2 separate regions of the Homo sapiens genome follow, and region 1 is linked to region 2. The links come from fine-mapping of genetic effects on gene expression. Tissue or cell type: whole blood. Region 2 holds a variant in brackets; the other region holds the start of a gene. All regions are shown on one strand. Distances are between the middles of the regions.

What was found. PIP is the estimated chance that this variant, and not a neighbour inherited with it, causes the effect.
Region 1: it holds the start of FSAF1, and the variant in region 2 is fine-mapped to the expression of FSAF1 in whole blood (INTERVAL, PIP above 0.99).

The regions. Positions count from the first base shown.
Region 1 is chr1:231,237,736-231,245,913 of GRCh38, reverse strand. It overlaps FSAF1 (40S small subunit processome assembly factor 1), which reads left to right and starts at 4,739. Exons shown (of 7, transcript NM_152379.4): 1 at 4,739-4,890; 2 at 6,726-7,057. The coding sequence starts at 4,773. It overlaps GNPAT (glyceronephosphate O-acyltransferase), which reads right to left and starts at 4,702. Exons shown (of 16, transcript NM_014236.4): 1 at 4,458-4,702. The coding sequence starts at 4,535. RefSeq lists enhancers at 3,800-4,689, 4,670-5,009.
Region 2 is chr1:231,216,984-231,225,161 of GRCh38, reverse strand. It overlaps TRIM67 (tripartite motif containing 67), which reads right to left. Exons shown (of 10, transcript NM_001004342.5): 10 at 3,597-8,178. It overlaps FSAF1 (40S small subunit processome assembly factor 1), which reads left to right. Exons shown (of 7, transcript NM_152379.4): 7 at 748-1,397. The coding sequence ends at 883. Among named protein-coding and RNA genes, the nearest start is that of FSAF1, 20 kb to the left of the region's middle. RefSeq lists enhancers at 3,835-4,335, 7,486-7,985. The variant C/A (reference allele first, on the strand shown) is at 4,996.

The sequences.
Region 1 (8,178 bases), 21 kb before region 2:
CACTGCAACTTCCACCTCCCGGGTTCAAGCGATTCTCCTGCCTCAGCCTCCCGAGTAGCTGGGATTACAGGCATGTGCCACCATGCCCAGCTAATTTTGTGTTTTTAGTAGAGACGGGGTTTCTCGATGTTGGTCAGGCTGGTCGCGAGCTCCCGACCTCAGGTGATCCGCCTGCTTTGGCCTCCCAAAGTGCTGGGATTACAGGCGTAAGCCACAGCGCCCGGCTATTTAATTTTTAATAATGGCTGTGTTTTAAGAATGGGCTCACAAACTTCATGAAAATTTAACAATCAGCTCTTGCAAGCCAATAGAAGACTGCTGTAGCACACCACTGGAAAGAGAATATAAGGAAAATAAAGCTGCGGTCAGGGCATGGTGGCTCACTCTGTAATCCCAGTGATCTGGGAGGCCAAGGCAAGAGGATCAATCGTTTGAGACCAGAAGTTTGAGACCAGGTTGGCAACATAGTGAGGCCCTGTCTCTACACAAAATAAAAAAAAAAACCAGTCAGGCGTGGTGGTATGCGCCTACAGTCCTAGCTACTGGGAGGCTGAGGAGGGAGGATCACTTGAGCTCAAGAGTTGGAGGTCACAGTGAGCTATGACTATGCCACTGCACTCCACTCTAGGTGACAGAGCAAGATCCTGGCTCTAAAAATAATTAATTAAAAAGCCAAAAATTAACAACAACAAAAAAAGAAAATTAGGCAACTAATGAGGAAAATGAGGAATAGTGATTGGATAGCTGTTTTAGATTCAATGGTTGTGGAAGGCCTCTCTGAGGAAGTGATATTTGAGTTGGGACCTCAATAATACAAAGAGCCAGCAATAAAACTTCTGAGAAAACATAGCATGCCACACAGAAGGGACTATGAGCATTCGAGGGAAGAGCATTTTACTGTCTGAGAAACAGAAGGCCAGGGTGGCTAAAGCCCAGTGAACAAGAAGATTAGTAAAGTCAGAGCAATAGCAGTTAAGAGATCATGTACAGTCTTGTGGGACACTGTAGTAAGGCATCTGCATCTTTCACTTGGACTTTAACAGGAAGTCATCATCTGGATTATGGCACACCAGTGGTTACCCATCCTCAGTCTTCTTTTCATTCTAGGGTCTCACTGAATGATTTCAGGCTCACCGAATGCTATAGATACAACCTACATGCTGAAAAATCTATACATTTAGGCCAGACCCCCTCTCTTGCTCTGGCACCATATTTCTAACCCTACTTGGATCTCTTCCAAACACTATGGAATGTATCTGGCTCATAACATGATAATCCACAAGTTAAAAATCATTATATTTCTCTCTTACATCACAAACTGAACACACCCCAAACTGAATTCTATTACCCTGACCAAACCTGCTCCTCTCCCCATATTTCTTATCAATGAAAGGCATCATCATCTGCCCAGTTGCCAAATCATAGAAACCCAACAGTGAACTTCAGACTATGCTATTTTCCTTAGCCACCACATTCAAATGGTTCCAAAGGATGATGATTTACTGTCCTAAATATCACATAAATTCATCAATTTCCCTTCTTCCTGGGCTCACTGTTACTGCTTCATTACTTCTCTGGATTACTGCAATAGCATTCTAACTGATCTCCACTTTTATGCATCAGATTCCCTACCCAACCTGATTCTCTTCCTACAGTCTCTACTTAGGCAAAACAGGTTACCTATACAGATAATCACACCAGAAACCTATAGTCTTCTCAGACTTTCAAAAATATAAATGTACTTTGGAAGGCCAAGGCAGGTGGATCACTTGAGACCGGGAGTTCGACACCAGCCTGGCCGACATGGTGAAACCCCGACTCTACTAAAAATACAAAAATTAGCCGGGTGTGGTGGCAGGCAACTGTAATCCCAGCTACTTGGGATGCTGAGACAGGAGAATCTCTTGAACCCTGGAGGTGGAGGTTGCAGTGAGCCAAGATTGTGCCATTACACTCCAGCCTGGGTGACAGAGTGAGACACCATGTCAAAAAAAAAATACATATACACACATATATTTATATATATATGTGTATACACACACACACACATAGATGTAAGATTAAAATCTCCCATAAAGTTAAGATTTTATCCCTAAGGATATGTAAACACGACACATAAAATTTCTTTAGGAAATATCTGCCTACTTCCTTACTTTGTTTCTCATGTCTCCTTTCTTCCACCCAAATCTAACTAATTCTAACCCCAAATATGCAAGGGAGTAGTTTTTTTTACATCAACATCTAGGACAGTTTTCCTCTCCCTCATCTGCCATTCACAGCTCAAAAACTCAGCTCATGCCAGGCACAGTGGCTCATGCCTGTAATTCCAGCACTTTGGGAGGTGAGTAGATCACTTGAGGTCAGGAGTTCAAGACCGGCCTGGCCAACACGGTGAGACCTTGTCTTTACTAAAAATACAAACATTAGCAGGGCGGGGTGGCGTGTGCCTAAAATCCCAGCTACTCGGGAGGCTGAGGCAGGAGAATCGCTTGAGCCCCGGAGATGGAGGTTGCAGTGAACCAAGATCGAGCCACTGTTCTCCAGCCTGGCAACAGAGCAAGGCTGTCTCCAAAACAAAACAAAAACAAAAACAAAAACAAAAAAGGAAGATCAGCTTAGATATCACCTTTTCTTAGAAACCTTCTCCAAGTTCCCAAACTGGTCAGGTGCCCCTTCTTGTCTCTCCCACAACACGCTGTGCATGCTTCAATCATTGCCCTTACCATACTTAACTGTGATTGTTTGTTTACTTTTATGACTTTTTGTGCCCTTAAAGGCAGAGCCTGCATCTGTAACTTCTATATCTTGGAAACTGAGAATAATGAGTAGGATACTGTATATATTCCTAATGTTTGCTGCAATCAGCAGTATCTTCTACGCTTCTAAAGTGCTACTTTTAGATCAGAATATTACACAATAACAGCGTAGCTGGGGAAATAAAAACAGCCTGAAGTACTAAGAAAAAGTAAGGTTACCGTGGAAGTAAAGGTTATCCAGTCACAAAACAGTAGTGAGAACTACCAGTAAAGAGTGGGTTGCTGTCCAGCATCAGAACTACAGAATGCTCAGATACAACTGCCATAGTTTTTCACATGAAAAAGTGGACTCAAGTCTTATTAAAGAACCGTTGGTAAAGGGGAAGTAAAACAAACAAACAAACAAACAAAACCAACTCCTTCCTTTAATGTACAAAAGGAAAATTCCAACCAATTCACAAACCAGTTGGGAGCTTAAAAAGCTACATGTTAAAAGCTGGATCTGCACAGCAACCCTCTTCCCTTCGTGCCTGCTCTGGAGTAGCAGAGTCAGAAAACAAAGTTGATATCCACCACAGAACTGTGGGGAAGATAAGATCAATGAAGAGATATATCTAAATAATAAGGCTTATAGGCAGTTAGCAATCAGAAACCGAAAGGTCTTGATAGAGAGGGAACAGAAGTTTCTCCATGTTCCAAAGAATATTGGTGTCTCAATTTGAAGGAACCCATATATTCTCTTTCAAAACTGGGGTGTTTATCTTGCTCTGCTGTGTTATCCCTGTTTTGACCTTTCTGCACAAATGAACACTACATTTAAGCCAAAATTGGACAGTAATCACCAGGATATGCTAATATGCTTTTAAAATGAATTCTTTCATTTTCTCCTAAAGTAGCTAAAAACTAATTTAGTGGTTAAAAACAACAAGAAACAAACAAAAACCAAACCAGTTGCCCCAGGTCTGTGCAATCCTGAAGGCTATAAAGCTCCCATCTCATAATTTCTTCATGAAAATCGTGGGTGACCAACATCTGCCAGCCAAAAAGACCCGTTAAAACCAAGAGAGGAAGAGGGGGTTGGAGGAAAAAAAGACAAGCGGGAGAGAAGCTGGGTGGCGCTGGCTGTCCTCCAAAATGATTTGTGGAAAAGGTACAATAATGACTGGAAGACAAGAACAGGCAATAAAAATGTCTAGAAGTTCTAAATTTTCCTGAAGTGTTTAAAACTCTATTCCCACATACAAGCCAAGTGCTCTACTCCCAGGAATATAACAGCAGCATAGGGCGGGGTGCGGAGCCACAGGCTATCTCAGGGCGGGTCAAACCCGCAAGTTTCTCAGGTTTGCCCAAAAGGTAGCTCGACATGCCCTCGCTAGAGATGGGGAGACTCCAATTCTCATTCCTCATTCTCGTGTCCAGGAGCTTTCTGAAGGCCCCAGGGCCTGATAGAAAGAAAGAGAAGGAAAAAGTGGAAAGGAACCAAAGGAACCATAATCCGTAGAAACTTCCAAAAGCATGCACACACAGACACACAGCGATACACTGTTGTCCTGGAAACCAATCCAACCAACTAACCCCTCCTCGGGAGCCTAGGGGCCAGCTCTTTTGGGCAAGGGTGGTGGGCCGGAGGAATAGGGACTGGGAGAAAGGGGTACTATTTCGCGCGGCTCCGCTCTGGGCCTCTTTTCCCTGGGCGCCTACCGAGTAGAGGAGCACGACAGCGCTGGGACTGGTTGGGCCAACGGAGAAATAAGAGTTAGATGAACTGGAAGACTCCATGGTGCGGCTGCCTTCCCGGGCGGGGTCTGGGATTCTTTGCTAAGCCGTGGTGGTGCTCCTGCTGGGGGCGGTTCTTTCGCTCAGGACGGCCCTACTTCGCCTAGGGCGGCGGCACCCTCTGCAGCCGCTACACAGGATCCCGGGCGCCGCCATCTCAGCCAGGACGGAAGCCGCGCAGGGCCCTGCAGCGCATGCGCGCAGTCGCGGAACCCGGAAGCGGGGGTGCAGCGCGGCAGAATGAGGGTTGATTCCTCGGCTGACCCCACAATGTCGCAGGAGCAAGGGCCGGGGTCCTCCACGCCTCCCAGTTCTCCGACACTTCTTGACGCTCTGCTCCAGAACCTTTACGACTTTGGTGAGTGCGGGGTCCCAGGAGCCCACGTGGAGAACAGATTTGAGGAACGTGGGTCTCCTGTGTTGCCCGTCCTGGGTTGGCCTCTGCTTTGAGGCTAAAGGTTCTTGCATGTCAAGCACCCTTCGTCCCACCTGGTTCCAGTAGCGAACACATTTCTCCATCGGAAGTCACCCCTCGACCGGGCTCTGCTGAGTTATTCATCAAACCTTCCAACTCGTCCCCAAGTGTGGGGACCATCCTACTTGCTTGTAGGAAGCACCAAGGCTTTCCGATTTAAAAGTAGCCCGCTTTTCCACGTTTTCTTGAGCCCTGGGAAGTCCCCTTTCCCCATGCCACCCCCAAGACCTGCCTGACCCTGGTGCGATGGTGTCATTTCGCTCTGGGGCCTCGGGCCTGTTGGATAATACACCAGCTTCATCCTTGTGTGTCCCTCTCCAGAGACATCATAGTCCTTGGCGAGTTGTCCTTTTCACGACTTTTTTTTTTTTAAACAAGTGCGCTGATCTTTTACTCTCCGTTCTTTGTCTTGATGGGGGAAAAGGAAAATAAAAGAGCCTATTAAAGTCGCATGGCATGTCAGTAGGAAGACAGTGCCTCATACTCTGAAGAGCTTTCCCGGGAGAAGGTGACACCCTTTGCACATGCACCAAAGAAAATCATTAGATTTCAGGACAACACACATTTCTTAAATTTACAGCGTGATATTTTAAAAGCTATTTTTATTTTGGAATGACTGCTCAAAATTCTAAGTTCACCTAAACAGTAGGAATAATAGTTAAAACTGTTGAGAACTTGCCATATAGCACATGCTTTTCGTGTATTTGCTCATTTAATTTTCAACTTCATGAAATAGACACTGTCATAAATCCATGATTGCAGATGTAGAAACAAGTACTAGAAGTTCATGAAACCTGATGCAGGTTGTCTGACTGGTAATTTTTGCAGAGCCTGGGTTCTGATTCTAGCCCCAGACCCCATGCTTGTATTAACTAGCATTTCTGTGCCCTTGGACATATTGGAGGACAGAGAAGACTTAGTCTCTGACCTTGAGAAGTTTAAAATCTAGAGGAAAAGACTATTCTGCAAAATAATATAGTTCATGTCAACACAGGCTGGAAATCATGGTAGGAGCTCTGAAGGCATTGAATGTGTCTATTCATTTTTATATCCTTAATGCCAAAGTTTAGTTGGCTCTTAAATGTTTATTGTATAAAAGATTAAGCAAATAGTAGCAAGCATAAATCAGCAGCTGGTAATTTAGAGAGCTCTGTGGTATTTGTAATACATGTGAGTAAGGATGCCTAGGATTCTGGTTAGAACTTTCAGGTGACTGGTCAGAGCTTCAACAAGTGAAATATAGAAAGAGGAATTAATAGAAAACAAAGGCATTCAAATTGAGCCAGTTGTCTTAGGTTCATCTTAATTCCTAACTGTGAAAGAAAATAGGAAGACTATTCCATGTTCCTGTAACCCAGAAAGTGTTAAAAAGAAACAGTGGCTGCAGTGCCTGATATTTTTAGTATAAAGCCAATTGGGATTACCAGCCCTGGGGACTATTGCTGTGATGACACTTTGAGTAGGAACCAAAGTGGAGACTAAAGTGATTGTGCTAATAAGGGTCAAAGACATAGTTACCTAGGAAAAGATGACTACATTTTGGATTCTCTGCATTTTGCAAATACACTTATTTGAAAGAAAACAAATAGTTTATTTCTTTGTGTGTGCTTCTAGGTGCATATAGCCCTGGAATATGTACAAATACATTCGTAGGATTTGATACTGATGATAGCTAAGACTGAAAATATTTATTTTCCTTCTTGTGTTTGAACAAACAGGAGGTACAGAAGGTGAAACAGAACAGAAGAAGATCATAAAGAAAAGGGAAAACAAGAAGAGAGATGTGATGGCTTCAGCGGCCTTGGCAGCAGAGCCATCTCCCCTACCTGGTTCTCTCATAAGAGGCCAGAGGAAGAGCGCTTCGAGCTTCTTCAAGGAACTTAGAGAAGAGCGGCATTGTGCTCCTTCTGGGACCCCCACAGGACCAGAGATCCTTGCTGCTGCAGTTCCTCCCTCTTCCCTAAAGAACAATAGGGAACAAGTAGAAGTGGTAGAATTTCACAGCAATAAAAAAAGAAAATTGACGCCAGATCATAACAAGAACACAAAGGTAATGAGTTGGTTAGCTTATATATACGTGGTGAACCCCCTGGTATTGTAGTATTAGGTGAATAGCTCTTTAGACTGTGGCAGGAATGCCTGACTATCCTCAGGCCTGCAGATTTGCCAAAAGGACTCACAGGACCCAAGACTCAGCATATAGCCCTTATCAGTCATGTAGGCCTACAGACTGACCTTAGTTATTCAAGTTCTAGACCTCCAGTGAAAAGCAGGTATTCACCATCAATCACATTGCTAGTATAAACTGTCTGGGAAAACTTGGTACAGCAGTGGCTCAAGACCTCAGGTATGCAAAAACACTCTGATCAGGCAGAATATTCTAATTGCTCAATTCTCAGGAGGCAGCCAACTGCCAGTCATGAAAATAGGACTTTCTTGGGAATGTGCAGGGTTTGGTAAACACAGGCCTGCTGAGTTAACTCTTACAGCAACTCTTTCTGGCATTCCTGTTATGTGCTAGCCACAGTTGTAGGCACTGGGATATAGCAGTGAACCAAATGTATAGAAATTCTTGCTCTCGAGGAAAAGCAATGCTGGTGGAAAAGCAATTTGATTTTTCTGAGCAGTAATCTTTTTCAGAGTGAGCTTGTAAATCTCACCTAAAATTCAGTCCCCAAGGGAGGTGTGGTTGCTCCTCCAAATGTTTTTAATTTTTTTTTTTTTTGAGACGGAGTCTCGTTCTGTTGCCCAGGCTGGAGTGCAGTGGCACGATCTTAGCTCATTGCAAGCTCCACCTCCCAGGTTCATGCCATTCTTCTGCCTCAGCCTCCCAAGTAACTGGGACTACAGGTGCCTGCCACCACGCCTGGCTAGTTTTTTGTATTTTTAGTAGAGTCAGGGTTTCACCATGTTAGCCAGGATGGTCTTGATCTCCCGACCTCGTGATCTGCCCGCCTTGGCTTCCCCAAATGCTGGGACTACAGGCGTGAGCCACTGCGCCTGGCCCCAAATGTTTTTAATTTATCTATTCACAAGAATATCATAATGGCTTTGACAAATTCATTGCTATTCCATTTCTGTAACATCCCCCACGTCCTGCAAACCTTTGTCTATCAACAAAGAAGTGAGGATTGAACGTATTAGTTTCTAAGCCTGCTATAACAAATTACC
Region 2 (8,178 bases):
GTATAGCCTGCTCTTTGACATACCACGTAAGATAGAGCACCGTAATTATGAATAAGGGATGTTGACTTTGTTGCTTTATACTTGTTTGTTAGCTTTTGTTCAAATGCCTTTTTCTCTGTCTTTGAGTTACTGTTTCAGAATGGACTCTTTTTGTCTTAGCCTGTTTTCTTGGGCTCCTAGTGCACTTGTACATGCTGTAAAATGGTCATTTGTTCTGGCCACCGATCTGTATCTGTTGAATGCCTCTTTGTGCCAGGCATGTGGGTGTCTTAGGTATTGGTGTACAGCTGTAATCACACTAAAGATATCCCTGCCCTTGAGGAGCTTCATTGTAGGGAGAGAAACACCCCAAAACATACAAATGGATAAGTAAGATGATATCAGGTACTGGCAAGTATTGTAGAGAGGCTGAAAGAGAGCATTGTGAAGGAAAACCACAGGGAGAAGGTGAGCTGGGAAATTAGTCTGAGGAGGTGACATCGGAGCTGAGAACTGAACAAAGAAGAGGGGCAGCCTGGAAAGAGCTGGTAGCAGAACATTCCTTGCAGAAGAAACCAGTGCAAGGGCCCTGAGGCAGGAAGGCAGTAGCATGTTTCAGGGACCACAGGAAGGCGTATGGGGTGGGGGGTGTGCATGGCAGGCGACCAGGAGTTTGCAGGCCAGACTGCAGTGGCCTGGTTGGTGGTACTGTGATGCTTGTTGGTAAGCTTGACTATTTATAGTACCTTTCTCTTACTTTAAATGTAGGAAATCCAAAAAGAAGTCCGCTCCCAGTATTTTGTCAAATGGACGGATTGGACAGGTTGGAAAATTCAAAAATGGAACACTGATTCTGAGCCCAGTTGATATCAAGAAAATAAATTCTTCCAGAGTGGCCAAATGAAGTACTTTGTCAAATAAAACGAGGATGGGAACAACTGAGTCAACTGCAGCGGCCCTGGACCCTGTGCGACTCTAGATAGATCGTTCTTAACACGCATTTCACAGACTGCTTTTTCATTTTAGAAAAAAAGTCAAACAGAAGTAACATTTCTAGTTGCCGAAGTGTCTGCTTCATGGTGCTGAACGTGTCAGGCCCAGTGCAGCATGAATGTGAAGTGAACCCACTGAAAAGTGATTTTTAATGTTCTCCAGCAAACTTCACTCCTGTTTCATGTTCACTGGTATTTGGTGCATTTGCTTGTAATACAGTTTTTTATAACTTTACTGTTTTGTAAATGCTAGTAGTTTACATTAAATTGCCTTATATTTTTAATGATTTAATGTTATGATATCATGAAAGAACCAAGAATCTAGTAATTTATCAGTTTTGTGGAAAAGCAGTTTTAATTTTTAGCCTACCATGTGTACAAAATCTACTTCATAAGAAGTTATATAAATAAAATAGGTTTGTAGTATATGTGCCTGTGACTGTTAAGTAACAGATGGTTTTAACTCATACTTTTGTGCCCACATTCAAGTGAATGTTATTTCTATCAGAGTTGTCATCACCTTTGCAGCCATATACATGTTTTTAATGATATTGCCCTTGCTTAAAGTGACAGCAACTTCTCAAAGCTTGTAGCACATTTAAAAAGGTCTTCGATGATGGTGACAATTTGGGCTTTTAAAAATTTCTGTTTTTTCAATTTTTTTTTTTTTGTGAGACGGAGTCTCACTCTGTCACCCAGGATGGAGTGCAATGGCACGATCTCAGCTCACTGCAACCTCCACCTCCTGGGTTCAAGCAATTCTCCTGCCTCAGCCTCCCGAGTAGCTGGGACAACAGGCGCACGCTGCCACGCCCAGCCAATTTTTTGTATTTTAGTAGAGACAGGGTTTCACCATGTTGCCCAGGCTGGTCTTGAACTCCTGAGCTCAGGCAATCTGCCTGCCTCAGCCTCCCAAAGTGCTGGGATTACAGACATGAGCCACCACGCTCGGCCTGTTTTTTCAGTTTTTTAGAGACAAGGCCTTGATCTGTCACCCAGGCTGTAGTGCCCCAGCACGATCATAACTCAATGTGGCCTCGAACTCTTGGGCTCAAGTGATTCTCTTGCCTCAGCCTCCAGAGTAGTTGGGACTAAAGGCATGTGCCACCACGCCCAGCTAATTTAAAAGATGTTTTGTAGGCCGGGTGCGGTGGCTCACGCCTGTAATCCCAGCACTTTGGGAGGCCAAGGCGGGCGGATCACGAGGTCAGGAGATCGAGACCATCCTGGCTAACACGGTGAAACCCTGTCTCTACTAAAAATACAAAAAATTAGCCGGGTGTGGTGGCAGGCTGAGGCCTTTATTGGTTCTGCGCAGCTCCATATCTCCCTCCATCCAATCCTGCTTCCTTCCCTGGGCCTCCATGAATTTTGATCCCAAGAGCTCGCCCTAAGAAACATTTGCTGTCTAATCTCTGCATCTGCCTCCTACTCAGCTGAGCCCATTCGGTAATCCCATAGGTCACTGGTGTTAGGGGCTGTCGGGGGCCATGTGAGACAGCTGCTCTTGAGGATCATGAGGTGAGAAAGCAGCAAAGGACAGAGTTCAGGTCAGGCATGTCTGGCCTTGGTCTGTGTAGCTCAAGGGGCAGGTGAGTCTCCTTGATGCTCATGGGTTCATTGGGATGTTTTCCGCAGATCTCTACGTGGAACCCATGATCTACTCTGCACTCATGGATCGACCTTAACCACATGGTAACTGTTAGGTATCTCCAGCCCTATTCCCTCTTGTAAAAATGAATTTTATGACCTTCCTGCTGTTTGTGGTCGGGCCTTCCGTTTTATTTTTTATTTTATTTTATTTTATTTTATTTTTTATTTTTATATTTTTTGAGAGGGAGTTTAGCTCTTGTTGCCCAGGCTGGAGTGCAATGGCACGATTTCGGCTCACTGCAACCTCCGCCTCTTGGGTTCAAGCAATTCTCCTGCCTCAGCTCCCAAGTAGCTGGGATTACAGGCATGCGCCCCCACACCCGGCTAATTTTTGTATTGTTTTAGTAGAGACGGGGTTTCACCATGTTGGCCAGGCTGGTCTCGAACTCCTGACCTCAGGTGATCTACCCGCCTCAGCCTCCCAAAGTGCTGAGATTACAGGTGTGAGCCACCCTGCGTGGCTATTTTTTTAATTTTTAACACAGGGTCTTGCTCTGTCACGCAGGCTGGAATGCAGTGGCACAATCATGGCTCACTGCAGCCTTGACCTCCAGGGCGCCAGCGATCCTCCCTCCTCAGCCTCCTGAGTAGCTGGGACTACAGGTGCACCACCACGGCTGGCTAATTTTTGTATTTTTGGTAGAGACGGAGTTTCACCATGTTGCCCAGGCTGGTCTCAAACTCCTGGCCTCAAGTGATCTGCCTGCCTTGGCCTCCCAAAGTTCTGGGATTACAGGTGTGAGCCACAGCACCCAGCCTAGTTTAGAGTCATATGTAATCACCCTGAGATTTCCTGGGCACGCGAAGCAGAACCACATTGACCCTGCTACTTAGTAACGCCCAGCCCCACTGGGGGAAGAGACCGTGTGGCCTCCCCTCCTGTAGCCTCTGCCCTGTCTGCTGGGCAGTCAGGGCCAGTTGGGAAAAAGGCAGACCTGACCACGGAGCAGGAATTACAGACCACATCTTGTCTTTCTGTTGTTGGCAGTGTCAAAAGAATTTATTTCAAATCTGCTTAAGACTGTGGTAAAACTCAGGTTTTCCAAAAGGTAATACAGAAAGTTCAACTAACCCCCAAAGACCAGAAAACACAGTGTTTGCAATTCAAAAAATACAAACGCTTGTGGATACCAATACAAAAATTAGAAAAAAGTTGCTTTCCTTACCACTCCCCGCTACCCCCCGTGTTTTCAGTGGAACATCCACAGCAATAGGACCAAGAGCTGCCACCAAATACCAACAACGAGTGACCGAAAGTGGATGTGATGGGGGAAGGGGAGGGAGGAGAAATGGGGATAAAGAAAGGCAAGAAAATTGGACTTCTGTCGACGGTCAAAACAAGGACGCGAAGCTTTTTGTTTCTTGTTAAATCCCTTTGCCAACGTTAAACAAACACCTCTCATGCTTAATACAACAGCTTAGTGCCAACGCAGCAATCCTACATCATGCATTGAATGTTTTCTGCTTTGCCCGCTCCCCACTTCTTCTGGGTGCCGAGAAAGCCTGGGGCTCTGGGTGTCTGGTTTCCAGGGCTAGGAGGAGTTGGAGAGGCTTCCCCGGCTGGGTCTCACCCAGTAAGCACCTGACATGTTCCTGCTACTGCAGTTGCAAGCAGTCACCTTCCCGAACCTGAAGCCTGGTTTTGGCCTCTCCTCAGAGCTTTACCCGAGGGCCTGGCCTGGTCTGCAGTGCCCGCATCACCGGCCCACAGGTCCCTAGGCCTTTCCCAGGACTGTGCTCCTTGAGAGAAGAGCGATGGATCCGGACGAGACTTCCCTGGAGGTCTCAACTCCCAGCTCCTGACTGATGTCAACGTCAATCATTGAAAAAGCCAGGGCCTCCCCCAACCTGCATAGCTCGTGCTGGTGAAGCCCCAGCAGTCCCAGCGGTTATCAGTCATCTGAAAGTGACATGATGACCCACTAGCCCAACCAGCCTTCAAAACTTCGGCTCAGTTGCATCTCTTCGTGCTATCCACACTGGATTTCAAACCCATTCACACTGCAGAGACCCCTCGAAACAAAGGAGGCAAGCTGTGAGATGAGAGACCCCTTAGATACCAGAACTTAGGTAACAAAGAAGGCAGAGGCCTGGGTTAGTGTCCTTCCTTGGTTTAAAGGGGCTTCTGCTCACAGAGGCCTTGAGGCCTCGCAGTGAGACTGCTGACAGGTAGCCTGTTCATAGCACTCACACAGAGCGCCATTCAAACAGGCCTCGCCGGGAATGGAAACATATGGGGTGTTACTTTCTATGGTCATAGGAAACCTGTCTTAAAGGTCTATTTTACCCACTGGAGGCCAGGCAGCTCCTTGCCCTGGTCACAAGGAGGCTTGGATGGAAGACACTGGTCAGAGAACACTGGAACGCCCCC[C/A]ACAGGTTTGAGTCACTGAATGGGAATCATTAGCTTAGATGCCAGAGATGAAAGACTGCACTTTTTTTCTTTAAAAATGTTATTGTATAATCCTCACAATACATCAGAGGAGGTAGGTTAGTATGACTAGTCTCATTTCAGGTGGGGATACTGAGGCACAGAAAGGATAAGAGATTGGCCCCCACTCATACCATGAATCACTATTAAAGCCAGGTTAAAAGAGGGAAGTAACCGAGGGCTGAACTTGGTGTCTGATCAATACATCCTGCCCGAAACCTGCCCTCATATTTTTACAGCCTAGATATTAGGTTAAAGCTGCAGGATCCTTTGATCTTCTGGGAGGAACTGCCAAAGAATGTGGTCAACAAACACAGCTACCGGCTCACTTGCAAAAGAAAAGTCCTGAAATTTTCCAGCATCACCATCTTGAATATTTGCCAATAAGATCTGTTAGATTTTTTTAAAAACCAATTGAGGGCCACAAACCCATTAAGAAGTTCCTGTTGCTTCCAGTAAAATGTGGCCAAGGAAAACAAAGGTAACGAGTTTTGCTTTCTAGGAAGTGGGGAGCGGGCAGGGGGCATCTTCAGTGAGTGAAAATTCAAGACCCAACAGGTTGGCATCTGTTGGAGGTGGCTCACCCCATTTTCCCCTACCTGCCCCCTGAAGACACATGGAAAATCCTGGGCTTGGGTATCAAGATAAAGGCTGGCAGCTTTGTCACATACAGGCTTTCTATGGAACAAAGCAGCCGGAGCGCCACAGTCCCTCTACAGATCCATGCATGACAAACCACTGGCATAACCTGGTGGTTCTCAACTTGTGGAGGCCCCCAGGAGATACCTAGCAATGTCGACAGATACTTTTGGTTGTCACACCTAACTTGGGGGTTGCTACTGGCAGATGATGGGTAGAGACCAGGGATGTTGCTAAACATCCTACGGCATACAGAACCTATCGCAAAATGTCAGTAGAGGTTGAGAAACCCTGGCGCCACCCCACGGGCTGTGCAGCAGTGTTCTTTAGCATTCACATGTTGACTCCCCCTAAGGATTGACCCTCCCTCACTACCTCAAAGCCAGCAGGTGGCCATGGGACCAGCAGCAGCCTCCTTGACACTGAACCACCTGCCCACCGGTGCCGAAACCCGCCTTCCCAGGGGGACCAAGCCTTTCGCTTGCAATGAGAATTAAGGCTTAAATGCAAATATCCCTGGAAGAAATACACAAAGATCCTGCATTCTGATCCTTTCCTGAGAGTGCTGTGGTGGGGCGGAGGGCAGGGGCACCAAGAGGGAGAGAAAGGGCGCAAAGAGGAGGGTGGGCCTGCCCCCAGCTCTCTTGGTGAGCTCCACAGAGCCTGCCCAGGCTCAATCCGGAAAGCACCACCCTCCTCAAACTTGGTGGGCCATAGGGCACCTAGGGCGCTGTTGCAACTACAAAGTACATATCAGGCTGAAGATGCAGCCTGGAAATATATACAGTTTTATAGTGTTTAGGTCAGTTACCTTGTGGGTCAGTATTACTGGTGTCCTCTTTAATTGGAATCATTATTTTCCCAAGGAGAACAGAGAGAGGAAAAGCAGGCTTTGGGGAAATACCTTCCCCTGCTTTGAATTAGGAGCTGGGATGCTATGTATGCAGTGAGGTGCTAGTGGATATTTTCGGAAGAGATTAATTTTAAAAGGAAAAGGCATACACTTTGACCAAGCTTGCTCACTAGCAAAGAACAACTGCAGAACCACATTACAGAGGCACTATTTACAATGCAATGGAACTCGACATTTTTAAACTACTTTGAATTCCTTTTTCACTGAAACTGCTTGATAGATTTACACCAAGTTACTCCTCAGCCAGCCCAACAAAAGCCTCATCTTGATATCATTTATATGTATGTACAAATGTGCCACCATGATGTAACGTGTTATGGAATTCGATGGTGGATGAGAATTCCATGACCTGTCTGTCATTTCTACTCTGAAACCCGGGACCTTCCTGGCCATGAGGAATTGATAAGTTCCTTCTTCACTTTTCTGATCCCTCAAAAACACAAGTGTGTGGCACGGACCTGTCGTTCTCTTTGAAGTCAGAACATTGAAGGTGTTTTGTGCTGAAGACAGGAGAGGTGTCTGTGAAGGAGAGCTGGATGCTGTCCCTGGCATCGGCCGTATTGCTTCTGGGCTCCTGGAGGAGTCAGAAAAGGGAGAATCCCAGCCCCCAAGCTCAGGGTGGCAGTGGGGAGGAGGGAGTCCTGGCTGCACCTCTCTGGACTTCAGGGAACTTTTTTCTGAAAGAGGCCACCGGATTTGAGGGCATTACCCTCCTGCACTTTCCACTTCTCTCCTGACCTGGATGCTGCTCCCTCAAAGGGGTTAGGTTCAGGGTAGCCCCAGGCAACTTGTGCTCCAATGATGGGCGATTCTTCTGCAGAGCTGGGGCCACCTGGTGACCTGGGCTGTGGTGATGGTGGAGGCTCCACAGCCTTCCCCAGGGCTCCCCTGTGAGAAGCTGCTGTCACCAGGCAGCCCTGCCTAGCCCACTCTCATTCTGGGGGCAGGGTGTAGGCCTGTTTTTTTTTCAGAAGAGAGCTAGACACTTCCCAAAGCTGATGGCTTCCTTGGCCCCAGGAAAGTGGTGGCTCCTCTTCATCCTCAATCTTTAGGGATCGTCTCCATGCTCCAAGCAAAGGCCACCCAGAGCTATGGCTAAGGATGAAGCTGCAGGGATATGGGAGACAGAGGCAGAGGTGCGGGCAAGGACACAGGGTCCCAGGTCTTGTGTGTCACCACCAAGAGCTCTGGACAGGGCTCTGGGATGGGAGGAGGAGACCCAGAAACCGCTTGGTGAGATGACAAGGAAGAGGCAAGACCTAGACTTCCATGAAGCAGATAGCTCCCAGGCTCCGCAGCAGAGACTGCAACACAGCACCGAGCAGCTCCTGGAGACGGGGCAGCTGGCCTTGCCGGCCACATCTGCAGAGACAGCGGACCAAGCAGCCTTGCAGACCAAGAGCATGAGCTTTGAGGTAGGATTGTCGGGCCTGCTGAGTGGAGGGGGGGTACCTGCATGGCTCCGGCAGGCAGTTACTCAGAAAGCAGGCGCGGTGTCTGAACAGGAAGGCAGAACCAAGGACGCACAGTTGGTGCTGGTGAATGGGCGAATTTTATAAAAATCCAGTCCAGCA